7 linked regions of the Homo sapiens genome follow. The protein of the gene in region 7 interacts with the protein of the main gene of each other region in a biochemical or structural test. Each region holds a gene or a part of one and is shown on either strand. Other genes may lie near its edges. The genes, in order: SH2D3C, SLCO1C1, RCN2, ADGRA1, ERBIN, FRMPD1 and GRIP1.

Region 1 (3,500 bases), on a different chromosome or scaffold from region 7:
CTCGGAGGCTGAAGCAGGAGAATGTCTTGAACTCGGGAGGCAGGTTCAGCAGTTGCAGTGAGCTGAAATCACGCCACTGCACTGCAGTCTGGGCGACAGAGTGAGACTCCATCTCCGAAAAAAAAAACAAAAAAGAAAAGAAAAAAGACAAAAAAAGAAAAAAAGAAACCAGGCGTTCTAGCCACCAGGGTTCCTAGCTCTGCTCCTGACTCGCTGTGCCCCCTCCCTCATCTGGGCTTCAGTTTTTTTGGTACCTGTCAGTCGGGAGGTTGGATTTGATAATCTCCAAGCCTTCTCTGCCTCTGAAGTTCAAGGTGCAGAGGTGGGGGGTCCCAGAGGCAGGCTGAGGCCCCTGACCTCCGGGCTCCCTGCCCATGATGGTGTCTGCTCCACAGTACGTCGCTGCCCCGCCCTCGGGACTCCATCCGCAGCTGTGCCCTCAGCATGGACCAGATCCCAGACCTGCACTCACCCATGTCGCCCATCTCCGAGAGCCCTAGCTCCCCTGCCTACAGCACTGGTATGGCCAGCAGAGGGGGTGGAGCAGGTGGAGGGAATCTGTTGTTGAAGACTTCTGTCACCTATGTGTGGTTATGTGTGTTTCCGCCTCTTTTATGAGGCGCGACCTTTACCAAGAGAAAGAACTGACACTGGAATCCTGCTAACAGAACTGTTGATATCAACATATAAGATGTATCCATGGTTTGTTTATTTAGCAACTATTTATTTGTTTTTGTGACAGTTTTGCTCTTGTGGGCTGGAGTGCAGTGGTGGGATCTTGGCTCACTGCAACCTCCGCCTCCTGGGTTCAAGCGATTCTCTTGCTTCAGCCTCCCAAGTAGCTGGGATTACAGACCCCTGCCACCACGCCTGGCTAATTTTTGTATTTTTAGTAGAGACGGTGTTTCGTCATGTTGGCCAGAGTGGTCTCGAACTCCTGACCTCAGGTGATCCACCTGCCTTGGCCTCCCACAGTGCTGGGATTACAGGCGTGTGCCACCATGCCTAGCTAATTTTTGTATTTTTAGTAGAGATGGGGTTTCACCATGTTGGCCAGGGTGGTCTCGAACTCCTGACCTCAGGTGATCCACCCGCCTCAGCCTCCCAAAGTGCTGGGATTACAGGCATGAGCCACTGCACCTGGCCTCTATTTTTCTTAATAGACTTTATTTTTTAGAGCAGTTTTAGGTTTGCAGCAAAATTAAGTGGAAAGTACGGAACACTGTGCTTTCTTATAAATACGAAGAAAGTTTCTCTGTTAGAAACATTCCAATAGATCATTTCTGGAAAAAAAATAAAAAGAATGTTTTCAACAGGCCGTATTGTCCACGTGGCAGGCCAAGTGTCACGAGAGGGGGCTGACTCAGGAGGAACTTTCGCCTAGGGTGGCATTCCATTGAAGTGTTGCTGTCTGTATCGGTTGTCACAAATCCTTCCCTAAACACAGAGCCACCAACTTTGTCATAACTACAAACTTGATTTCAAAGCAATACCCTGAGTATAAAACCTAAAATTCCTTGCCAGAATGACTTATTGGACAGTTTCTAAGCAATCTGGTATAGTAAAGCAGCCCAGATGTCAAGACTTAAATCTCAGCTGTACCACTTGCTGGCTGGGTGACCTTGGGCAGGTTAGTGCACCTCTCTGAGCTTCACTTTTCTCATCTGTAGAATGAGGATTATAAAAGTACTTACTTCATAGGACATTGAAAGGATTAAATAGACTGAGGTACAAAGAAGGGTCTTGCAGGCACTAAGAGCTTAGTAAATATCGCCTTTGAGGTTTGATGATGGTTTTACTGTCATTATGTCTCCAGCATGTTGCCAGCTCCTAGCACACAAGGTTTAGCAACAAATCATTATTGCTAATTCAGGCCGGGCATGGTGGGGCACATCTGTAATCCCAGCTACTCAGGAGGCTGAGGCACAAGAATTGCTTGAACCTGGGAGGCGGGGGTTGCAGTGAGCTGAGATCATGCCATTGCACTCCAGCCTAGGCAACAGAGCGAGACTCTGACTCAAAAAAAAGTTAGCCAGGCGTTGTGGCACATGACTGTAATCCCAGCTACTCGGGAGGCTGAGGCTCAAGAATTGAAGAATTGCTTGAACCCAGGAGGTGGAGGTTGCAGTGAGCCTAGATGGCACCACTGCACTCCAGCCTGGGCCACAGAGCGAGACAGTGACTCAAAAAAAAAAAAAAAAAAAAAAAAAAGGAAATCATTATTGCTAATTCGTCGAGAAACAATCACATGTGGCACAAGAAACTCCAGCAGGTACTCAGCTTCCCCGGATCACTGAAGCTCCTCCAAGCAGTGGGTCCCCAAGGCTGCAGCAGCCTCAGGGTGGGGCCATGCAAACTCCTGGGTCCTGGTGATTTCAGAGCATCACCTGGGCTGGTCAGCTTGCCAGAGTCAATCGGCCCTGGTCTCTGGTGATGCAGGGAGGTGGGGACATCACCTCTGTACTCCCTACAAGGAGTGAGGGAGCCTGTTCTTTGGGAAGGGGTGCGGGAATCTCACTTTGGTGGGGAGCTGCTATAACGGGGCCTCTCTCTCTACCTTTCTGCAGTAACCCGTGTCCATGCCGCCCCTGCAGCCCCTTCTGCCACAGCATTGCCTGCCTCCCCTGTCGCCCGCCGTTCCAGTGAGCCCCAGCTGTGTCCCGGAAGTGCCCCAAAGACCCATGGGGAGTCAGACAAGGGCCCCCACACCAGCCCCTCCCACACCCTTGGCAAGGCCTCCCCGTCACCATCACTCAGCAGCTACAGTGACCCGGACTCTGGCCACTACTGCCAGCTCCAGCCTCCCGTGCGTGGCAGCCGAGAGTGGGCAGCGACTGAGACCTCCAGCCAGCAGGCCAGGAGCTATGGGGAGAGGCTAAAGGAACTGTCAGAAAATGGGGCCCCTGAAGGGGACTGGGGCAAGACCTTCACAGTCCCCATCGTGGAAGTCACTTCTTCCTTCAACCCGGCCACCTTCCAGTCACTACTGATCCCCAGGGATAACCGGCCACTGGAGGTGGGCCTTCTGCGCAAGGTCAAGGAGCTGCTGGCAGAAGTGGATGCCCGGACGCTGGCCCGGCATGTCACCAAGGTGGACTGCCTGGTAGGTGCTGGCTGTGCACTGGGGTGGAGGGAGCATCTCTGTTCTGTGGGGCAGGGCAGTGAGAAGCTGGCTCCCAGATTCCCCAAGTACAGCAGGTGGGCCTGGATTCTAGCTCCATGGCTGTCCTTTGCCTGCTCTGTGACTCTGGGCTGGTCATTTAGCCTCACTGGGCCTCCAGTTTCTCCTTTTAAAAAGGCCGGGGGTGGTAGCTCACACCTGAATCCCAGCACTTTGGGAGGCCGAGGCGGGCGGATCACCTGAGGTCAGGAGTTCAAGACCAGCCTGGGCAACATGGCGAAACCCCGTCTCTACTAAAAATACAAAAATTAGCTAGGCGTCGTGGTGGGCGCCTGTAATCCCAGCTACTTGGAAGGCTGAGGCAGGAGAATCACTTGAA
Region 2 (3,500 bases), about 46 Mb from region 7:
TAATATACTTCTGTGCAAAGGTGTATAAAAATAGCTAACAAGGTAGAAAAGTAAACTTTTAGAGCAATTTATGACACTACTTCAATGCATCACAGGTGGGGTGTGTGTGTGTGTTGTGTGTGTGCAAATTTCATTCAGAATTGTTGTCTAAGTATGAGTGGAATGGATATTACTAATGGTCCAGTAAAAGGAAAAATAGCCAATCAGTTATCAGTTAATTCTCTTTCAGTGTTTGCAGGAGTTACATGTCCTCTTGCATGTGTGTAACCAACAAGTGCATTCCCAGTTCATTCAACCTTTCTCCTGTGTATCCTCCCAGTGTATAGTGCTCTTTCATATCTTATAGCATCCTTTCTTACTCAAATTCACAAGTAAGTTCAATGACTTACCCATTTATTTGTTGATAAAATTTTACTGGAAGCCTACTAAGTGCTAGCTCCGGGAGAATAGGAGATGGTTACAAACATTAATGAGACAAAATTTGCACCCCCCCCCAAAATTGGTTTTTTTGAGTTATTTCACAAAATTGTGATTGCATTCTTTCTTTTCTCCTTCATTTTTTTTTGTTCTCTGCCATTCGCTTTTATATTTATCCTTCATCTCTCCCAGTATTCTCTCTCCCTCACTTTTTTTTCTGTCACCTGAATGGCCTAATCCTTCTGCTTTTATCCTTTTTTTTGCTATTCATATTCCTCTACTCTTCTCAAAAGGAACTTTTGCAATGGTATGTCATTTCTATCTGCACCATATGTGCCATTCATTGGCCCTCCATACTTCATTTTTTCTGCTCCTTATTTTCAAATTTATTTATTTGCTTATTCCTCATATCTTTCCTCCCATTTTTTATAAAGATAGCTGAGGAGCTTAAACAAACAAAAAATACACTGAACTGTACAATCAAGAGAGGCAGGAACTATTTTTGTATTCACTCCCATATGTCCAGAACCAGGAATAATTCCTGTCACACAGCAAGCTAAGAAACAAAATTTCCAGTAAGTTAGTCAATTAAAAAATGGTACTTTATTTTGGAGAAATAAATTAATCACTTGAGCCTCTGCCTCTGAGAAGTATTGTCATTAATGATGGCAACCATAATTTCTTAATCAGTGTAATACTTCATCTAGTAGAACTGGTATGATGAATTTTGTCACCTCAAAAGTACAAACCAAAGACCTCTGAGATGTCTCCAAATAGTGTGAAAGGGTACTGAACTAGGCCTTCTGAGATGTGCTATAGGAATGTTTAATCCTATTCTCTTCCATAAAATTTTAATTGTTAACTGAGACTGTTTGTATTATCTGAAAGTATAAAACTGCCTTTTAAAGTCTAGAATCATTTAACTCTGGAAACTGTAGGGCTGAGATTATAGAAGGTTGGAGCTGGAGGGAACATTGGAGTAATCTATGCCAACCTCTTACTTGGCAGATCAAGGAAGTCAGCCCCTACGTGGGTGGGTAACATGCTCAAATTCACACTGCTTGCTAGTGACAAACCTGGAAACTGAACCCTGCCAGGTTTCTTGATTGTAAATTCTTATGTCCACATCAGAGTTGTCCTTGTTATTGCAGAAGAGAGATTTCTTCCATTATCATATCTAAGACTTGTCTTCAGTTTTCCTATTGAATATTCAGGTCAAGACAGCGTTTGGAATAAAGCAACATGGAAAAACCCATGGGAAACATTTTATATTTTATAAAGAAAAATACTTTATAGTATTGAAAGTTTAATTTATCATCAGGGGCAGGAATCATTGGGATACATCTTTTCTGAAGGATGTGCTGACAGTAGATTTGTAATTTAGAATTTTAATTATAAGACGAGTTTTAACAAATATGCCAGAATGTTTATGCCCAAATGAGATTTCCTTTCAAGATAGTTATGCTGAAAGATGAGAGCTTTTCCTTAAAGGTTAAATCTTTGCCCTTGTTAAGAATATTCTCAAAAATATACAAAGAAATTCAAAATAAGAGTCTTAGAATATTTTAAACAACAGTAGCATTACTGCAATACAATTATAGTCTTTCAAGGTGACTCCTTTGAAGAGGCTAGTACTCACTCAATGAAAATGTTACCTTTTATTTGTTTAAAATATTTAATCTTTGATTATGTAGGAATACTTTTAATGGGAATCTCAAAGTTTGCTTTTGTTGTCTGCTTTGTGTTTACTTTTGGCTTAGAAATTATGATGCAGAAAGAATGTTCTACTTTGAGTCACGCCTGTGTTCAAACCCCAGATCCATGCAGTTTCTTTTAAACAAGGATAACAAAACTAAACTCATAAAGGTGTTTTGAGGATATAATGAGATCATGAAAGTTAAGGTGTTTTGGAAATCACAAACTATAAAGTCCTCTACAACTGTCCCTCTACCGTGAGGATTTCTGGGACAGTTAAAGATGGCACTGGGCTTCTGCTCTCTCCAGAATCATCTTCCATTTCATTGTTACAACTAACATTCTTAATCCATATCACTGACTTTCACTAAGGCAGCACTACACTCAGCTGAGTCTAACAATGTGGCTGTGATAACTCCCAGAAGCCGTAATTTATGAACTTTGCATTCACCAATCTTCCTGAACATTGTAGATGGCCAAAACTATAACAGGCGCTCATTTAGCAGCAGATGAAACCAGGTTAATAAAGGTGATGGAAGTTGGAACATAGAGACAAGACAGATAAGCAGGGAAGCAAGAGTAGGACGGGAGATGGACAGCAGGCTGTAAGCAAGAAGCCACAGAATAGGCAGGAAACAGAATATAGTGTCAGGAGTGTTTGCTTTTGAGCCACAGGCAGAGTTTCAGGTGGCCAGGCAGATACAGTTGGGAAGGCCTTCCTGGCACATGATGGAGACTCGATAATTTTTTTAGAAAACAAATAATGCATATATAGGTGAAATGATGAAGAAAGTTACCTCTGGAAATTCATGTGAAGTGGTAGAGTGATGGGAAAGACTCTCAATGGGCAAGGGCAATATAGTTCCTACAAGATTCAACCTTGTATTGAGAGAGACTCTGGAAACCAAGCAATGTAATCACCCACCCCATACAAGATGAGAGGCCTGAAGGCATCACTAAATATTCTCCTGACCAATTGCAAGACACTCAGCTAAAGAGAACTTTTATGGGGAACACTGGGTTGAAGGACAGGCGTTGTTTCCTGAAACTTTACATGATTCAAGCACAACAGCAACTATGGAGGATTGCAAAGAGGTAACTCCAGTTCCTCAGATGTTCAAAGGAGGAAGAAAACAATTGTTTCCATGAATGGCACATTTAGCTTGTGTCAGGCAAGTAGCATTCACTTTCATGTATGTTAGCTTGCTTAAACCTTACAAAAGTTTAAAAGGTAGTTATTACTTCTGTTTTTAAGATGGGAAAATTGAAGTTGGATTAGTTTAAACCACATGTACATCATTTCATTAAGAATAGACAGAGGCATTATTCAAGGTTTGTATTTCTGCTATCATGTTGTTTTTCTAAATTAATCAGGTTGGTTCTCTAGT
Region 3 (3,072 bases), on a different chromosome or scaffold from region 7:
AAATAATGGAAGTCATTAAGTCCTTCAGGCAGAATCAGCCAATGATTCAGAAAGTCTCAAACTATTTTTACTCTCATGCTCAAGGATAAATTCAAATTATCCTAATTATATTAAAACCAAAATAAAAGCTTTATTTTAAAAGTCTTATTTAAAATTCAAATCTAAAAAAAGCCTTAAAATTTTCTATTTTGACTCAGCAGTAGATATAGCATCTCTGTTCAAGCAGATGATTCTTTTTCTCTGCATGCTTATTAAAAGCCTATTGTTAAATGTGAAATCTTCACTCAGTCACAGCAGGATGGGCTCTGCTGTGGTTAAAAACAAAAAAGCACAACCAAATCTCAGTGGCTTAACATAATTAAAAGCTTATTTTTTGATCATACAAAGCCCACTGTGGATCCAGCTGACCTACACAGACTCAAGATCAAAGCCACTTTCATCTTGTGGCTGCACCATTTCAGCTGAGGCCTCCTGCACAGTGCTGTGGCAGAGGAAAAGGGTTTGTCATGAGATAGTCTGATAGTGACACACACTACTTCCACCCATGTTTAACTGGTCAGAACTAGCCATCGCCTACCTACAAGAGGGCTGGGAAGTGTAGTTTTCTTTATGCTAGGAAGGAAAGTAGTACAGACATTGCATTTCTGCAAAGGATTGAAATATAATCCATATCTGATGATCTATTCTGGCATAGATTTTGGAGAAGCTAGAGAGAAAAACAAATAGTTAACTAGTCAAACTGGTGATTTCAAATATGCCAGCTTCAGTGAGTCTGACAAATGACAGATGAGTGATAGTGGTAAATCTGTAATTCTAAAACTGCTATAGCCAGACATATAGTGTAGGTTAAAATGAAAACCATGTAGATACCCAAGCAAGCAGTCATTAAGGTGTGGAAGCTTACAATTTGCAAGCACACCTCACATCAGCAAAGATGCGGCAGTAGAGAGGTATATAGGTGCAGTCGATTCTATCAGAGAAGAGTTTCATGTCTTCTCAAATAGTCATAGGTACTTGTTGAGCCCCCAGTGTGCTGTATATGAGACAACTTTAGGCTGGAAAGTGATTAAGAGAATGCATAGCTGACCTCTTCACCCACAAATAAAAGTGATTTAAAGAATGAAAAACTAGAGGCCGTGCGCGTTGGCTCACGCCTGTAATTCCAGCACCTTGGGAGGCCGAGGTGGGCTGATCATGAGGTCAGGAGATCGAAACCATCCTGGCTAACACGGTGAAACCCGGTCTCTACTAAAAATACAAAAAAATTAGCCGGGTGTGGTGGCAGGCGCCTGTAGTCCCAGCTACTCGGGAGGCTGAGGCAGGAGAATGGCGTGAACCCAGGAGGCAGAGCTTGCAGTGAGCCGAGATAGTGCCCCTGCACTCCAGCCTGGGCCACAGAGCAAGACTCTGTCACAAAAAAAAAAAAAAAAAAAAGAATGAAAAACAATCTCTGTACATCAGAACTAGAAAAAAATTAATTCCTCCCTTCACTTTTCCCTATCCCACCTCCACCAAAGTTAAATAAGTTGACCTGCTGAATTAGGTTAAAATTGATTATCATGCTTATCAAGTATGATTTTAATTTCAGTAAAATTGATACTGAGCTCTACTGTTGATAACTGACCAGCTCTATTGGTAATTCCAACCTGCGTTACTCAAGATTATTTATAGCCCCAAAGAGCAAAACCACATTTGCTACAACACCAATTATTAAAATGTGTCAGGTGCACATTCAATTATATTATAACATGATTCTCTTATTTAAAAAAAAAATAAGAAAATGCAGCAAGAATAATTTGACAGTTTTGGGAACTATCCACATAAAGGAATGGATGAGGCAAGATAATGTACAATACCACAAAACCTATGCTAAATTCAATATTTATCTGAAAGTTAAAGAAAAGCAAACAAACATATACAAAGGACATTTCATTTTTAATCACTCAAAAATGAAAAAGGTTTGGACAATGTCAAATTCCACTCACCATAATGCTATAGTTATACATTAAATATAATTACTATCTATACATATGCAAAAATATAAAGTTCTATTTCATACAATAAAACCCTTTATAGAAACCATTTTAAAATTAAGCAGAACTTCTCAACATTAATATGTGAGGTCTAAGTCCTTCTAAAGGTTTCTTTAAAGGTTTTTAAACAAAATGCTAAACCTAAAAACATTGTCCTGTCAGTTCCCAAATTAAATCTACTTAGAACAAAAACAAAAATTTATAGCTCGGTCACATACTACTTAAATAATATTGTTCAGGCATCTCTAAAATCCTCCATGTTTTCAAGTATGGAAATAGAACTCAAATATTCCACAATACAGTACTAAACAGATGGAGTATTTAGGAAAGACTTTGTTGTCATATGGCACAATATTAATATTTTGTTGCTTCAATACATTTTGAAATAAATATCAGATTTTTGTTTTTTTTTCCTAAAAGACCAAAATTATAATCTACATTAAGATAATTCTGACTGTGGTTAAGACTTAAGAGTGTAAAATACAACATCAATATTTTATCACAAAAGTAAAGCTGGTAACAAATTATAAAAGGAGCCAGTACTCTACTGAGACAGGCTCAGAGATTAAAGCTCATCATGATAGAAATAGTCATCATGGAGCTGTCTGCCATAATCTGTGGCTTCACTGGTGAGAAACAAGTCCGGGTTTTCCAGAATCTCTTCTTCAGAGAGCTTTTTGTCACCATTCAAATCCATTTCATCAATTAGATGAAGCGCCTTCAAAATAAAACAAAAAAGTGTCAAGTGTAATAAGTATTTTCAGCAAGATGTTCACAATTTAATGTGATTTGACTTGTCAAAATCATCCAGGTGTACAAGTACTCATTATTGTTTAAGTATCTAAAAATGTTACACGTTGTAACCAGGTCCGTCTACTGCTTTTCCCATTATCTCCTTTCTTCATTTCTGCTGGGTTCTGTCTCTCTCCACTCAAATCCAATCCAGGATATATCAAGGCAATGAAAAATTATTATAACCTGTTTTGAGTCCCTGTAGGTAAATACAAACTATTATTCTATTCACTGTACTCTCAAATTA
Region 4 (3,500 bases), on a different chromosome or scaffold from region 7:
TCCAGCCTGCTGGCCTCCCTGAGGAGGTGCAGCCCAGTCTCCCAGCACAGTCCCCCAGCAGCCCCAGGCCCAGCCACGGAGAGGGCAGGCCCTCGGCAAAGCCCAAGCTAACACCGCCCACCACTCCTGAGTCTGCACCTGCCTCAGGGGTGCACAGGCTGAGCCCTGGCCAGACACCGGGGGGGCGGCTGGGGAGGCGGAGCGACGAGGCAGGCCAGGAACCAAGGAACACAGCTGGAACACGGCACTGTGTGGACACCCCCTGCCACAATGTCAAGACCTTTCTTACACAGGAAGGGGGCCCAGAGGGCAGGGGGTGGAGGATGGGGGTCTCCAGGCAGCCCCAGGAGGAAGCAGTCGCCTCGGCACCATGGCCGCAAGCAGGGCCTTGCCGTCGCTGGGTCCGCCGGTCAGTGCCGAGCCCCGGGCCCGCTGGCCCCCCAGCACCTGGACAGACGCACGGCTCTGCGGCGCGCATTGGCAGACACCGGATGGAAGAGCGCCGGGGTGTTCCACGGCTGCCAGCCTGGTCTTCAAAACCAGGCAGCTCTTCCATCAATTACAGATGAGGAAACGCATTTTGAGAGTGATTTATACACCCAGGGGACCTGGGGCCTCCCTGGCAGGAGAGGCAAGATAATGAAACCCTACCTCCCCAGCCCCCATCAGCGGCAGAAGCACCACCCAGCCCTGGTTGCTAAGTGGCAACGTGTCTGCGTGGATCTGAAAATCAAACAGTGTCAGAAAATGCTCCGGGTGCAAATGAGTGCTGTTTGCTGGAACAATACAGGACGTGGCTGTATCTGCCTTGAAATGAATTCTTCAGACCGTTTTGGACGGGACAGTGCCGGACAGCCCTTCCGAGGAAGCAGGTGTCCGTGCGCCAGCACCGGGTCACGTCTCCCATGCAACCGGATGAATGTCCTCCAAGACCCCCTGGGACCGCTGGCCACAGAGCAGCCTCTGGCGGGGGTGCCTCACACAGGGTGCTACTCTGGGCAGGCATTCAGGGAGCCCCAGGGAACCCCAGAGGATGGGCCAGGTAGGCACCCAAGGCCTCGAGGCCACGCTCCGAGCCTGGCTTTCGCCAACTGTGTCTGGGATTCAGTCTCAGTTCAGAAAAGGAAACACCAAAGGCGCTGGAGCTCCCTGGCGAGCTCCGGCCTGGTCACGGCCGCGGCCAGACCCCCGTCTAAAGCAGCTGTCCCAGCTCCCTGACCCGGCTTTTTCCTGCTGGTGCAGAGGAGCTCCTGCCACCTCCCAGACGTGGACGTCTGGGTTCCCCTGGCTCTGGACTGAGGGAGAGAGGGAGGGAGGTCTGTGCCATCATGGGCTGTGTCCGCCCCCCTAGGCAGGCCCATGGTTCCCACAAAGGCCACGGTGCATTCCCAGCCTGAGGATGGATGGGGACCAACAGCTGGTGCAGGCCGCCGGGGCGGCGGGGGAGGGCGAGTGTCCCATCCCAGCAACCGGGCCTCACACAGCAGAGACACTGGGGGACCACACCTGCCTCCTGGCCTGAAGGGCCCAGGCCAGGGCCACCTTGAAATGAGTGCCTGAGTGTGTGAGGTTTTCCACCCGCTGACAGTCAGCTGCCTGATGTTACGGAGACCATGAAGCCGAAGCCAAAACCACCAGAGCCCGTTTCCCCAGTGTGGCTGCCCTGCGGGGCATAGAGGGTCTCACGCCAGCAACTCGGTAGCACAGGAGGCTTGTCCAGCCCCCAACACACGCCAGCCCCAGACCAGCCCCAGAGCAGCCGGGCTCCAGCTGCAGATGTGGAGGGCAGGGCACCGCCTGCCTCAGACTCCACCCGGGACCCTCCACCCTCAGGGCCCCCTCTGCCCCACCCCCAGTGACCGGCGCCCCTCCCCTCCGGCGCCCCTCCCCTCCAGCACACCACCCTACCCTCAGATCCGTCGCCCGCTCTCCACCCTCCCTGGGAACACTGACCCTCCCCCATGGACCGGATCATCCTCAGGCCCCTGGTGGCCTGGTGAGAAGGTTTGCCAAGACCCAGAAGGTGCATGCAGCGTCCAGGGCCCAGGTGGCGGGGCCTCGCGCCCATGTGCACTCAGTACCTGAGCAGGGGCTGCCTGGGGTACGGTGGCTGGTCTGTGTCCAGGCACAGAGGGGCCTTCTTGGTCACCTGCTTGTAGATGTTCCTGGCGGTCACTCCTATCCACAGCATGGTGGACAGTGTAGAATAGTGCAGCACGATGCCCACCTGTGGGGGAGCAGCGGTCAGCCAGGCCCTTGGCGGGCACCCACCCCCCAGAGCCCAGCAGCCTCGGCCCGGGCTTGCAACTTCAAGAATGAGAACGGCAGGCGGCCAGCAGCGTCTGTATCCCAGGGCAGGCAGCGGCCGCCCCACAGCCGCCCAGAACTCACAGGGAGACGCTGAGCTGCAGAGACCCTTGAGCGGCTCAGCTTTCCTCCCCTTCTGCACAGAGACGGGAGCAGGGAGTCTGTGGGGACCCATGGGCCTGTGCACTCACGCCCCTCTGCATGCACAACCCGCTGTGGTCCCTGTGGCCCAGGCACGGACACTGTGAGCTGCAGACCAACGTCCCCTGAGCTCAGACCTGGATAGGTGTCCACCAAGGGAGAGGAGGTGAAGTCCTCAGTGGGGTCACGCCAGGATGCTCTTACTGTGGGTAGGATGAGCCCCCCACGGGGACGGCATTCGTGTGGCCCTGCAGGTCGCCGTTCCTCATTCACCAGGATGCTCTTACTGTGGGTGGGATGAGCCCCCCACGGGGCCGGCATTCGTGTGGCCCTGCAGGTCGCCGTTCCTCATTGCTATGGAAACTTCCTGCGTTTGCTTATTACGAGGGCCACACTGCTACCTTTGGAGTAATAACCTGACATTTTGAAATGACAGGTAAAATACTGCTATAATTGGAAAGGACATAAATGTTTAAGGAATACAGAGATTCGCCGCATAAAGCTAACGTCGCACCATTATGATGATTTATCAGATCCAGAGCTCAATTTTCACTGATGAGGAGGCTCTGCAGTAATTGATGAGAATATTGTGGGGTGGGCTGGAAAGATCGGAGGGCTGCGTTTGCAGTTTCAGGTGAGATCCCTGTGCGCCGCTGGGGGCAGGAGACACAGCAGCCCCCGGGGGGCTCCACCCTTTCCCCCGGCCTGGCCACTGAGTGTGGGGTCGTGTCCCATCCCAGTGCCTAGGCCTCATGCAGCCTGGTGGAGACAGGGAGGCCTGGAAACCATGGGGCACCGTGTCGAGGAGTAGGGCAGAGGCAGCCCCCACAGCCCGGCCTCGGGTTCTTTCTTTTCAGGAAGCAGCCGTGGGGCTGTCAGTGTCACTGCCCGGGGCGCTGAGGAGGGTGGCAGAGCTGAGCCTCACCCGTGCCATGTGCATTTGGGGGTCACAAGAAGGTGTACGTGGCAGAGCTCTGAGTCCTGGACACCGACTTCAGGCTGGACAGATGGAGAGGCTGCAGGGAAGCCACCAGCGTCCCACGGTGCTGCAC
Region 5 (3,236 bases), on a different chromosome or scaffold from region 7:
AGTTAAAACAATTTAACCAAAAACTATGAATGTTTATGATATAATGAAATGATTTTTAACTTTCTTATTGCTTTTTCACACACCTATAAAAGTAATTTTATTACTCTCAAGAGAAATCACTAAAGTCAGAATTACTAGAGGTAAAAATAACTAGTTTGTTACAGTATTACTCAGAGAAGTCAGGGAGAAAACTTGTACCATGATTCAAATATTTGCATGGTGTGGAGGAAAAATTGCTCCTTGGTACTCTGTTATTTATACATACTGTTTTTAGTTAAATAATTTTTTTTGTTGTTAAAGGGTATATTTGTAACAAGGGTACAACCTGAAGGACCAGCATCAAAATTACTGCAGCCAGGTGATAAAATTATTCAGGTAATTAAAATAAATCTTTTTTTTTTTCATTTTATAACACTCTAATGTTTTCACAGTTTAAAATGTTTTCACTTTAACTTTGAAAATTGTGGGTGGGAGGCTGAGGCAGGAGAATGGCGTGAACCCGGGAGGCGGCACTTGCAGCGAGCCGAGATCGCGCCACTGTACTCCAGCCTGGGCGACAGAGCGAGACTCTGTCTCAAAAAAAAAAAAAAAAAAAGTTTGATACATCATAGGATTTTGTTTAAGCTCAGGAATGTTAATTTTTACTAATTTGAGGGGGATTAGAGTACCACTTCTTGGATGTGGGCTATTGTCCTTTCAGAAATGGAGAAGAAAAATTTTAAATCTGCGAAACTCATTTTTTCCTGTCCCCTCCTTTTCTTTGTTCATTCAGCTACTCATTTTACCTAAACACTTACAGTCTTAGAAGGAAGACAAACCTAGGACACAAGTATAGCTCTCATTTTCTACCCCTACTGTCACCGTTCTTAGCTGAGAACTAAAGAACTTAAAAAATAATCCTCAAACCAAAAAAAAAGGGAGAGAGAGACATTAATGTCTAATAGCTGAAAGTACAGATTCTGAAAGCCAGACTGCCTGAGTTTAAATTCTGGTCCCAACACTTTCTAAAAATAAAACTAATTAAAAAAAATTTTTTTTGAATAATTTTAAGCTTAGAAAAAAGCCACAAAAATACTACAACAAACACCAGTATTACATCAATTGGTCACCAGTCGTTCATAATTTGCTACATTGTCTTTATCATTTATTCTCCTCTTTCTTCTCTTTTTCTCCCTCCCTCCCTCTACACACACACACACACACACACACACACACACACATACACACACACACACAGTCACACTCACTCATACAGTTATACACATTTATTTTTCTGAACCATTTGGGTTTCAATTTGTGACTGAGCAAGTTACTTTGCCTCTCCATGCCTGGGCTTTCTCTTCTCTAAAATAAGATAGTGAAAGAATCTTTTTTGAGCATTATGAGAATCAAAGGATCTAATTCATATTACACCCTTAGAATTGTGTGTTTGGTACACAGTAGAACCTCAGTAAATATTAAGCTTAATTGTAAGAAATATGGTGGTCTTGATGTGATGGCTCCAAGACAATGGGAAGAGTAGCCCTTGCCCCCTGCTACGCTACAGTTTGGTCACCTCAGATACACATTAGCATTATACGACACCATGTCTGACATTATTTCTTAAGTAAGTGATTTCTAACATTGGGCTGCTACATAAGAATTGGCTGAGAAGTTGGACAAAATACACATTTTTAGACCCCATCTTCAGAGACTTTATTCCTTGGTTTGGGTAGGGCCTGTGAATCTGTATGTTATTTTAAGTTGCCAAAGTGATTCTTATTTTCTTCCAAGTTTGTGAACTACTTGGCAGAAATGCAAATAAATAACTATAAAATGTTTTTCCTAAAAGCATTTTTCCTCTTCTAGGCTAATGGCTACAGTTTTATAAATATTGAACATGGACAAGCAGTGTCCTTGCTAAAAACTTTCCAGAATACAGTTGAACTCATCATTGTACGAGAAGTTTCCTCATAAGCACTGTGGACAAAAAAAGCGGGGAAGACAGCAAGATTTATTGGAAGATACTTACAGGGGAAATTAATATTTTGACTATTTTTATATATAAAGAAGAACTCAAAAAATTATGTTCAAATTTGTACATTAATGAAATAATGGAACTTGTGGTTAGAGGGAAAGAACCACTGTACAGAATATAAAGGAGACTGTTGAATTCATACCATATAAAACTTGTTAGGTTTTTAAACATAGCAATCAAGGCTACAAAAACAAACCTGTGTTGTTTTTGTATAGATTGTAGGTTTATTTTTGGATTTCATATACATGACTGAACTGTGTGCAAGGCAATAGTTAGCCTTGATTTTAGCCCAGAGACAGATGGCAGAGCTATCTCTCTCATAGCTTTTATGCCCTTATTTTTATTCAACTGGTATTAATGTTTTTCTCCTGAAACTACTTTTTTTGATGTGGGCAAGAGATTTGAAGTGTTGGCTTTTGCTATGTGCATATTGAATTGAAGAGTGAGTAGGTGAAGGTGGTGCTGGTGGGTTCACTTTCCAAGGCCAGACTAAAACAGTTATTTTCTATAAAAATCTGGAAGCAAAGAATGGGGATGGGGAGAGCTACGTGGTAGTATGTTTTTATTAGGAGAATAATGCAATAAAATATGTAATGTCTTTTTTATAAAGCAAAAAAGACAATAATTGCATTTATGAGCTCGGCAGGATCTGTTCTTGTCATAGCCATTGACTATACATTTGCTACTGGTGATTCAGTTTTTAATTTTTTAGTCACAGGAAATTTTTAACTCTACTGTAGATGCATGTCCATGCATTTTCTGTGTTATGGAAATCCACTGATTTTTTTTTTTTTTTCAAATGGTGGTACTTGCAATCTGTTTTATAATTAGTGCTCCATTTAAATCTAATTTATAATTTTTATTTTAAGCAGCAAATGAAACAAAAATGGCCAGTTTTAAGATTGTGTTGCCTGTAACACAAAATGTTACGAAGGTTTAGGAAAGCCTCTTTGATTTTTGTTTGGCCTTGCATTGCCTTGGTAAAGTAAAAGGAAACAGTACACTTGGAGCTAGGAAACCAAAGCAAGCTTTGTGAAACTGGCACAGTGATAGAGAATTGCTGTGGAGAGTTATAGAGCAAAGGGATGGGTCCTTGAGGCCTGCCAGTGTGTAAAGGTGTTCAAATAAAGGGCTGTTTCTACAGGTAACATTAAATGTGAACTCAACACTTCCAGAGTCTTTAAAGGGTTTCTATGTGTATCAGTGTAATAGTGTTTTA
Region 6 (3,500 bases), on a different chromosome or scaffold from region 7:
TATTACTCCTTCACATTTCTGTTGTTCATAATGACAATAAACACCTCATCCCATCACTATTTGACCTTCCTCAGAAAGAACCACTGACTGTTAGAGGGAAAAATCATTTGCCACAGGTGAATGACAAATAACTTGTGACTCGCTTTGTGGTTTCTCTCTTTGAGAGATAGAAAATATTACTTTCCTGCTTTTAAGGAACATACATGTTTTAAAAGTTGATATAGAGGGAGTCCTTGCTATCTGAGATTTTATATTGGAAACCTTGCAGTTACAAAGCTTAAAGGGAAGCAAAATTCATCATAAAGAAACAAAGAAAAACATCACCAAAGACAAAATCTTGCTATAAAATTATCCGTCATCAAACATCTGAACCTGACAACTCCTTGTTTCTGCTCACCATCCATGTTTTTCCTCTCCTGTACCTCTGACTCCAGCAGTATGTCCTGCCTGGGATGCCCATCTGCCTGTTCTTCTGTCAGTCCGTCCATCCATCCATCCATCCATCCATCCATCCATCCATCCATTCATTCATTGATTCACTCAGCAGCAGTTATTGAATATCTTCTGTGTGCCAGGATCTGGGCTGTATAGGTATACCCTAGACATGTCTCAGAGTGCAGCTCAAATGCCACCTCTTCCAAGTACCAGATGCGTCCCTGATTCCCTATTCCCTGCCCTACAAAGGTGAAACTGCTCTCCCCCTTCTCTGTGTGTCCATAGCACTTCCTGGGCGCTTTCTAGATATTTAGCATTAGCTCATTAAGAATGCCTGGCAATACGACTTCTCTTTTAGAGGACAGTCCTAAGTTCTGCTAGTGGAGTTGGTGTCTTATTTGTCTCAAGAGGAGAATTGGTGTCTGCTCAGTTCTGCATCTTTCTCCATGATGCTTAGGGCTGACCCAGTTCGTGACCAACAACTAGAGTCTTCTCTTTCTCTTTTTTACATACTCCTTCTCTTCCAGGGCTAAAGTTGCTGCAGCTGATGGGCCCGCCAGGAACCCAACTCAGACCCTCATCCCTGTGCGACACACAGTAAAGATAGACAAAGACACCCTCCTCCAGGACTATGGATTTCACATTTCTGAGAGCCTTCCCCTTACAGTGGTGGCTGTCACAGCAGGTAGGGGATGACTGGGAAATGAGAAAGGAGTTTGGTTTCTTAAGGGGAAATAGCCCCAAATCTCCCCGATCTCTCTATCCTATAACAAAATGCAGAAAATCCTACCTGGGAAGTTAGAAAAGGCACACCTAATTCTGTCTTGGGCTTTGCACCTTACTTTGATGCTGGGAGGGAGGAAGCCTCAAGTGCACTTGCCGCTCCAAACCCCAGGCTCCCACTGGCCTTGGCTAGGGCGTTGCCCACCCTTGGCTCCCTGGCTGGTCTCAGGGGCAGTGAAAGTATTTGGCTAAGCTAGCCTTCCTCTTTGAACCCCACACGCTCCTAGCTGGGGATACTTTCTGGTCAGACAGTAATAGAAACCATTGATTTGTTTTCATTTGAACCTTGTGAAATACAGGCTGTACCAGGGTGGAGAGGAGCAGGTGGGGAAAGTCCAGTGCTTGTTTTCATAATTGAGGTGTGTTAATCTGGGATTCGTTAAAATGTATTGATTTCTATTTACTACACATACACACCAGAGTTTTTTAGAGATGAATGGAGTAGATTTACTGGCCAACTCTATTGATTTAGAAGGTTTCTGCTAGTTTTCTTTCTCAGGACAGTCTTCTAACATCCCTGGAAGTTGGTGATAGATGATAGGTACATTATCCATGGTTTATAAACAGGAAAATTAAGATCCACATGAGCCCAAGCCTGACTGAAGGCGGGGGAGTGAGCCAGTGCCCCTGGGAACTGGATCAGGGTGCCATTTAACTGTGCCGCTATTACACATAGAGTCTGGGTCCTCCCGGCATGAGCACCAATTACTTATTTTCTGTCCAACAGGAGGCTCTGCTCACGGCAAGCTTTTCCCTGGTGATCAGATCCTCCAAATGAACAATGAGCCTGCTGAAGACCTTTCCTGGGAACGAGCAGTCGATATTCTCAGGTACTAAATGGTCTTCCATCATCTACAGAATTGCACAGATTATCAAAGAACAAAGATGGGCAACAGGAATGGCATAACTGATCCCCTGATTTTAATAAGGCTAAGTCTCCTTTAAAGCAGCAAAAACAGCCTCGTTTTAGAGTTCCATCTATTAAAACGGCTTCTTGTTAGTGGCTGTTACAGTCCACTCTCTCTCACTTGCCTACAAAAGAGCTTGGGAGGCACAGAGTGCTGTATTTGTCAAAGCCCTGCTATGCCCAAGACACCGTGCTAAGCATGCAGGGAATGTAATGATCATAAATAACCCACAGGCCCTACCCTCTAAGGATTTATAGGCACGTTGTAACATATGCCAAAGATTGAACTAAATTGATGCCAAATCTGTTCTTCTTTATCCCTCTTGATATATCTTCTTAAATATAATTGCAGGTGCATCTTGGTTGGCATATATGTAGTTTCATTGATGTAGCACCTCCAAACCTTCTGTCTGGTGTCATTGTGACTTATGAAAATGCCTCGCTTTTTACCTAGACAATGATTTCCTGAGACCAGGGCTCAGTGGGTGCTCAGTTAAATGAGTGAATATGGTTAGCGCTGGGAATTGGCAACCCAGACTTTAAGACGGAGGAGTGCCATTGATAGGAGTGAAGAGGACAAGCAGACATTTTAAGGGCACATGAAGCTTTGGCTTTTAAATTTTTCACTCAACATTGTTCTAATGACTAGTATAAAGACAGACGAGAATCAGAGGTAGATGAAAGCTAACTTGAAGAGATATATATATATATATAAAATTCAGTTTGTGATTTTTCATGAATGGCTGATCTGGCTTTGGGGTGGTATTAATTGTTTTTTTTTCCCTTTTTTTTTGAGATGGGGACTTGCTGTGTTGCCTAGGCTGGTCTCAAACTCTTGGGCTCAAGTGGTCTTCCCATCCCAGCTACTCGGGTGGCTGAGGCAGGAGAATCGCTTGAACCCGGGAGGCAGAGGTTGCAATGGGCCACGATTGTACCACTGCACTCCAGCCTGGGTGACAGAACAAGACTCCATCTCAAAAAAAGAGAGAAAGAAAAAGAAAAGAAAAGCCAAGGAAATACACTGTAAATGCTGGAGAGTCCTCCAACTTGGGCAGAAGTTGTAGGCTGACAAAACAGAGAAGGGCCCAGAAATATTTCAGTTGTGTCTTTAATGCTGGGTAAAATTTGGTCCAAAAGATGGAGGTGAAGGGTGATTCAGGCAAAGAGGTAAACAGAAGCAACTGGGTGGGAAGTAGGGGCTGCTGAGCAGTTCAGTTTGCCTGCAGAAAAGTTCTAGGAAGTGAAGTCCAGATGATAGAAGGTCTTGAATGCCAGCACAGCATGTTTCAGTGTGATTCTCCCCCTGGAAGGGCGAGCAGTTGAAGGCTTCTGAGCAGGGATGCATGACTTGAGGTGTGCTGTGCATCTGTACCCT
Region 7 (3,500 bases):
AACAAATGTGTGGGATTGGTTAAGCCCGGAGATCTTTAAAAATTGACATCATTTGGCCAGGCATGGTGGCTCACACCTGTAATCCCAGCACTTTGGGAGGCCAAGGTGGGCAGATCACTTGGGGTCAGGAGTTTGAGACCAGCCGGGCCAAAATACAACAAATTAGCCAGGTGTGGTGATGGGTGCCTGTAATCCCAGCTACTCGGGAGGCTGAGGCAAGAGAATCACTTGAACCCAGGAGGCGGAGGCTGCAGTGAGCTGAGATCGTGCCACTGCACTGCAGCCTGGGTGACAGAGTGAGACTCTGTCTCAATAAATAAATAAATAAATAAATAAATATTAACATTATCCATTCGACAGATACTTATTGGGCATTTTCTTTGTACCAAATACTTTGTACTTGCCAGTGACATAATGGTAAGTAAAGCATGGATACTAATTTTCAAGGAATTCATAGTCTGATGGTTGTATACAGATAAACAAAGAATTATCATCAAATGTAGAAAGCATAATGAAAGCCATCTATACAGGTTTATGAATACACAGAGCAGGAGTACCTATTCAGTGGTGTGCTGGTAAATGTTTAACAAGTGGCTTTGTCGGGGCATGCCTTGATTTATAGCATCCATCAATGTCTCTGGTGTAAATACTCCCACTATGGCCAATTTCAGTCTACCAACTTGATGTCATTGAATGTGGAGTTGCTAAGAGATGTGTGGCACACCATTATAGAGTAGCTCTCCCACATAGATAGAGTAGACTTCAAGAGCACAGAACATAAAATGTAGTAATGATTAGAAAATGATGAATTGTTAGTATTCATTACCTCCGTTTTTAATATCATTTAATTGCAAATTTATATAATTTTAAATGATTGTGTTTACAAGCTAGTTCAAAAAATTCTTTAACATTTAACAATTGGCTCCATAGAAGATGACTTTAACCAATGAAGTCTACTCTTCATTGTGGGCTAGGGCAACAGACTTTCTGCACCATACAAATGAGGGTGAACTCCTTTGCATGAGTAGCTATGTCCATTAGCATTGAAAGAAGACAAGTAACAGAAGAGAAGAGGGAGCAATGAGAAGAGCTGAGATGCTCAGAACATTGCACCGCATACAACCAAAGCAGAAAACTTTATAACCCTGCCTTTCAACTATTTTCTCCATATAATAACCTTCCGCATAAGGGGAGAAGAAAGGGAGAGATCAGTTAGCCCTTAGGTCCCTAAATAGTAAGGACAAAAAATCACATGAAAATTACAATATTCATTTCCATCCCCATGGAACATTCCTTCCAGTCTATGCTGATGTGGACTGCCAAGGAGGGCAGACTTGAAGACTTAACAAAATGATCCACTGGAAATCCTACGTTAGCAGTGGCGCTCATAACTTCATACAGGACTGCAGGCTCAGATTTGCAGGGGTGTTCACACAGTTCTGTGGAATGAGAGCAACTCAGGAGTGGACTCAGCAAATGGTTGAGTCAACTGTCATTTTTAAACTATGTCTTCAAAACTCTCACCAAAATGTATACACACAAATGCGTTATAACCTGTATCAGGCCTCTTTTGATTGCAAATAACAGAAAGACCTGGCTCTAATGGGCTTAGGTGTTAAAGACATTTAATGGCTAACTTAACTGAAGAAGTCTAAGGGAGAGCTCAGAGCTCCCTTAAGGTAGTTCTTGAGCAGGGGCTGAAGTGATGACAGTCAGATATGGTGTCTCTTTCTTTTGGATCCACTGCCATTTTCAGACAGGCTCTGCCCTCAAAGTCACAGGAAGGCTATAGCAGTTTCATAGCCCTTATATCTGCTCAGCTTCTCCCTTCTAGCAGCTGAGTAAAATTCCTGGGCTTGTCTCTGGCTGAAACATATCTAGTAGCATCTCTATGAAGCTGCCAGTACGTTAGGTCCATGGCTCCCAAACTCAGCTAACACAGTAAAGTCACCTGGGGAATGTGTTAAAATGCCAAAGAACAGGCCACACTTCCAGGCAATTAAATCACAATCTCTGGGGTTGGATCCAGGCAACATTATTTTCTTAAGGTTACAAGGTAATTCCAATGGAGAGAAAAATTTAGAAACCCCTGAATTGGGTGCTCATAAAAATAGGAGATTTTAGACTCATCTTCTGATTTACTAAGAAAGTCAAGTTTGATTAATTTCCTTAATGTCCACCTCAAAGTCTTTCTTCCTATGCTTTCCTGTCTCTGTGACAAGAGTGTCCCTCTTGCTCACTCTAGCTGGCTGCCATCTGTCTCGTGGTCTCACACTCACACTGTCTTGCCTGGTTCTAGAGTTCATCCCTCTTCTAGTTTGCATCTTGAAATTTTACCTCCCTACTGGTTCTATCCTTTTAAAAAATGCTCAGATTTCTCCCATCCTATAATAGCCTTCCTTATCCCCCATGACCCCGCCCTCCACCCCCACAGGCTGCTGCCCATCTACAGCCTAACTTTCACCTTCAGACTTCTTAAAAGAGTGGTCTGCCCTTGTTGCCTTTAATGCAGAGAATCCTTATAATCTGGTTTGGACATCAATACCCTGTGAAAACTGTTCTCTCAAAGGTCAGCAATGACCCACTTACAAAACAGAAGGGCTGCTTCTCGCCTCTCCTTCTCTCATCTTTGCTTTGGTTTTTAGATATTACGGTATCCAAACGCTATTTCTCCCACTGTTTTTCTCTCTGCCACCTCTATTAGCTTAAGAAAGCCTTGGGGAAAATGTGTGGGACGTGTATCCTAAACACATTTCTCAGACAATATGTATCAGAAGACTTGAAAGTGAAGATACATGAAGGCAACAATTTAAAGCACAAAATAAATTCTTTAAAGACAATTCAGTATCATGTATTAGACTGAAAACTGGGAAACAAACTAAAGATATATTATCCACATAAGGAAATACTACAGAGACAGTAACAGTTTCCTATGACAAGTGTGTGCTAATGTGCACAAATGGGCAGAATATTAGGAAGAAGATGTAAGACAAAACATGTATTATACATATAATTTCAACTTATTAAAAAGCATAATAATTTGTAAATCAATTTGTTTTCCTCCATTGGTTTCCATTATTATGATGACAACATATCTTTAGTGATATTTAGTTTTACCTTTTCTCCTAATTCATCTGTTTTGAAAATGAATAGAAATTTCCTTAGTACAAATGTAACTTATTGTATTCTTCATATATTCAGCTATTTAATAATGTAGTTGGAATTATTAGTAAGAAGCTCTTTCTCACTTTCTAATACCCCGAGCTTTGCCTGAATTTAGGTGGTCATCATTGACTGAGACATCCAAGACCACTGCTTTTATTGCTTTTTGTAATGGCAAGGTCAAAGTTTCCTTGGTTTGAAGGGTGCAGTAACATCCTTTAAGGAGCTACATGTAATAAATATCTGGGTGCATTTTTTTTTTGGATATATGCGATACTGAAACAAATAATTATTTTAAAAATCTGCAAATAAGATTTTCTTCTGTATATTTAATAAAG

The links.
Region 1: the proteins of GRIP1 (region 7) and SH2D3C interact in a test that uses a peptide from one of them, tested with the Homo sapiens proteins (one large-scale study listed by IntAct).
Region 2: the proteins of GRIP1 (region 7) and SLCO1C1 interact in a test that uses a peptide from one of them, tested with the Homo sapiens proteins (one large-scale study listed by IntAct).
Region 3: the proteins of GRIP1 (region 7) and RCN2 interact in a test that uses a peptide from one of them, tested with the Homo sapiens proteins (one large-scale study listed by IntAct).
Region 4: the proteins of GRIP1 (region 7) and ADGRA1 interact in a test that uses a peptide from one of them, tested with the Homo sapiens proteins (one large-scale study listed by IntAct).
Region 5: the proteins of GRIP1 (region 7) and ERBIN interact in a test that uses a peptide from one of them, tested with the Homo sapiens proteins (one large-scale study listed by IntAct).
Region 6: the proteins of GRIP1 (region 7) and FRMPD1 interact in a test that uses a peptide from one of them, tested with the Homo sapiens proteins (one large-scale study listed by IntAct).

What each region holds. Positions count from the first base shown.
Region 1 is NC_000009.12:127,744,167-127,747,666, reverse strand, and holds part of SH2D3C (SH2 domain-containing protein 3C), read left to right. Parts: intron 1-395; coding exon 396-520; intron 521-2,567; coding exon 2,568-3,103; intron 3,104-3,500. UniProt on the Homo sapiens protein: Acts as an adapter protein that mediates cell signaling pathways involved in cellular functions such as cell adhesion and migration, tissue organization, and the regulation of the immune response.
Region 2 is NC_000012.12:20,733,332-20,736,831, reverse strand, and holds part of SLCO1C1 (solute carrier organic anion transporter family member 1C1), read right to left. Parts: intron 1-3,500. UniProt on the Homo sapiens protein: Mediates the Na(+)-independent high affinity transport of organic anions such as the thyroid hormones L-thyroxine (T4), L-thyroxine sulfate (T4S), and 3,3',5'-triiodo-L-thyronine (reverse T3, rT3) at the plasma membrane.
Region 3 is NC_000015.10:76,948,749-76,951,820, reverse strand, and holds part of RCN2 (reticulocalbin-2 isoform a precursor), read right to left. Parts: intron 2,752-3,072; coding exon 2,599-2,751; 3' UTR 1-2,598.
Region 4 is NC_000010.11:133,101,424-133,104,923, reverse strand, and holds part of ADGRA1 (adhesion G protein-coupled receptor A1), read right to left. Parts: intron 2,679-3,500; exon of another isoform or gene 2,586-2,678; intron 2,228-2,585; coding exon 2,082-2,227; intron 1-2,081.
Region 5 is NC_000005.10:66,076,575-66,079,810, forward strand, and holds part of ERBIN (erbin), read left to right. Parts: intron 1-300; coding exon 301-375; intron 376-1,848; coding exon 1,849-1,956; 3' UTR 1,957-3,236. UniProt on the Homo sapiens protein: Acts as an adapter for the receptor ERBB2, in epithelia. By binding the unphosphorylated 'Tyr-1248' of receptor ERBB2, it may contribute to stabilize this unphosphorylated state.
Region 6 is NC_000009.12:37,706,454-37,709,953, forward strand, and holds part of FRMPD1 (FERM and PDZ domain-containing protein 1), read left to right. Parts: intron 1-962; coding exon 963-1,120; intron 1,121-1,945; coding exon 1,946-2,048; intron 2,049-3,500. UniProt on the Homo sapiens protein: Stabilizes membrane-bound GPSM1, and thereby promotes its interaction with GNAI1.
Region 7 is NC_000012.12:66,669,077-66,672,576, forward strand, and holds part of GRIP1 (glutamate receptor-interacting protein 1), read right to left. Parts: intron 1-3,500. UniProt on the Homo sapiens protein: May play a role as a localized scaffold for the assembly of a multiprotein signaling complex and as mediator of the trafficking of its binding partners at specific subcellular location in neurons.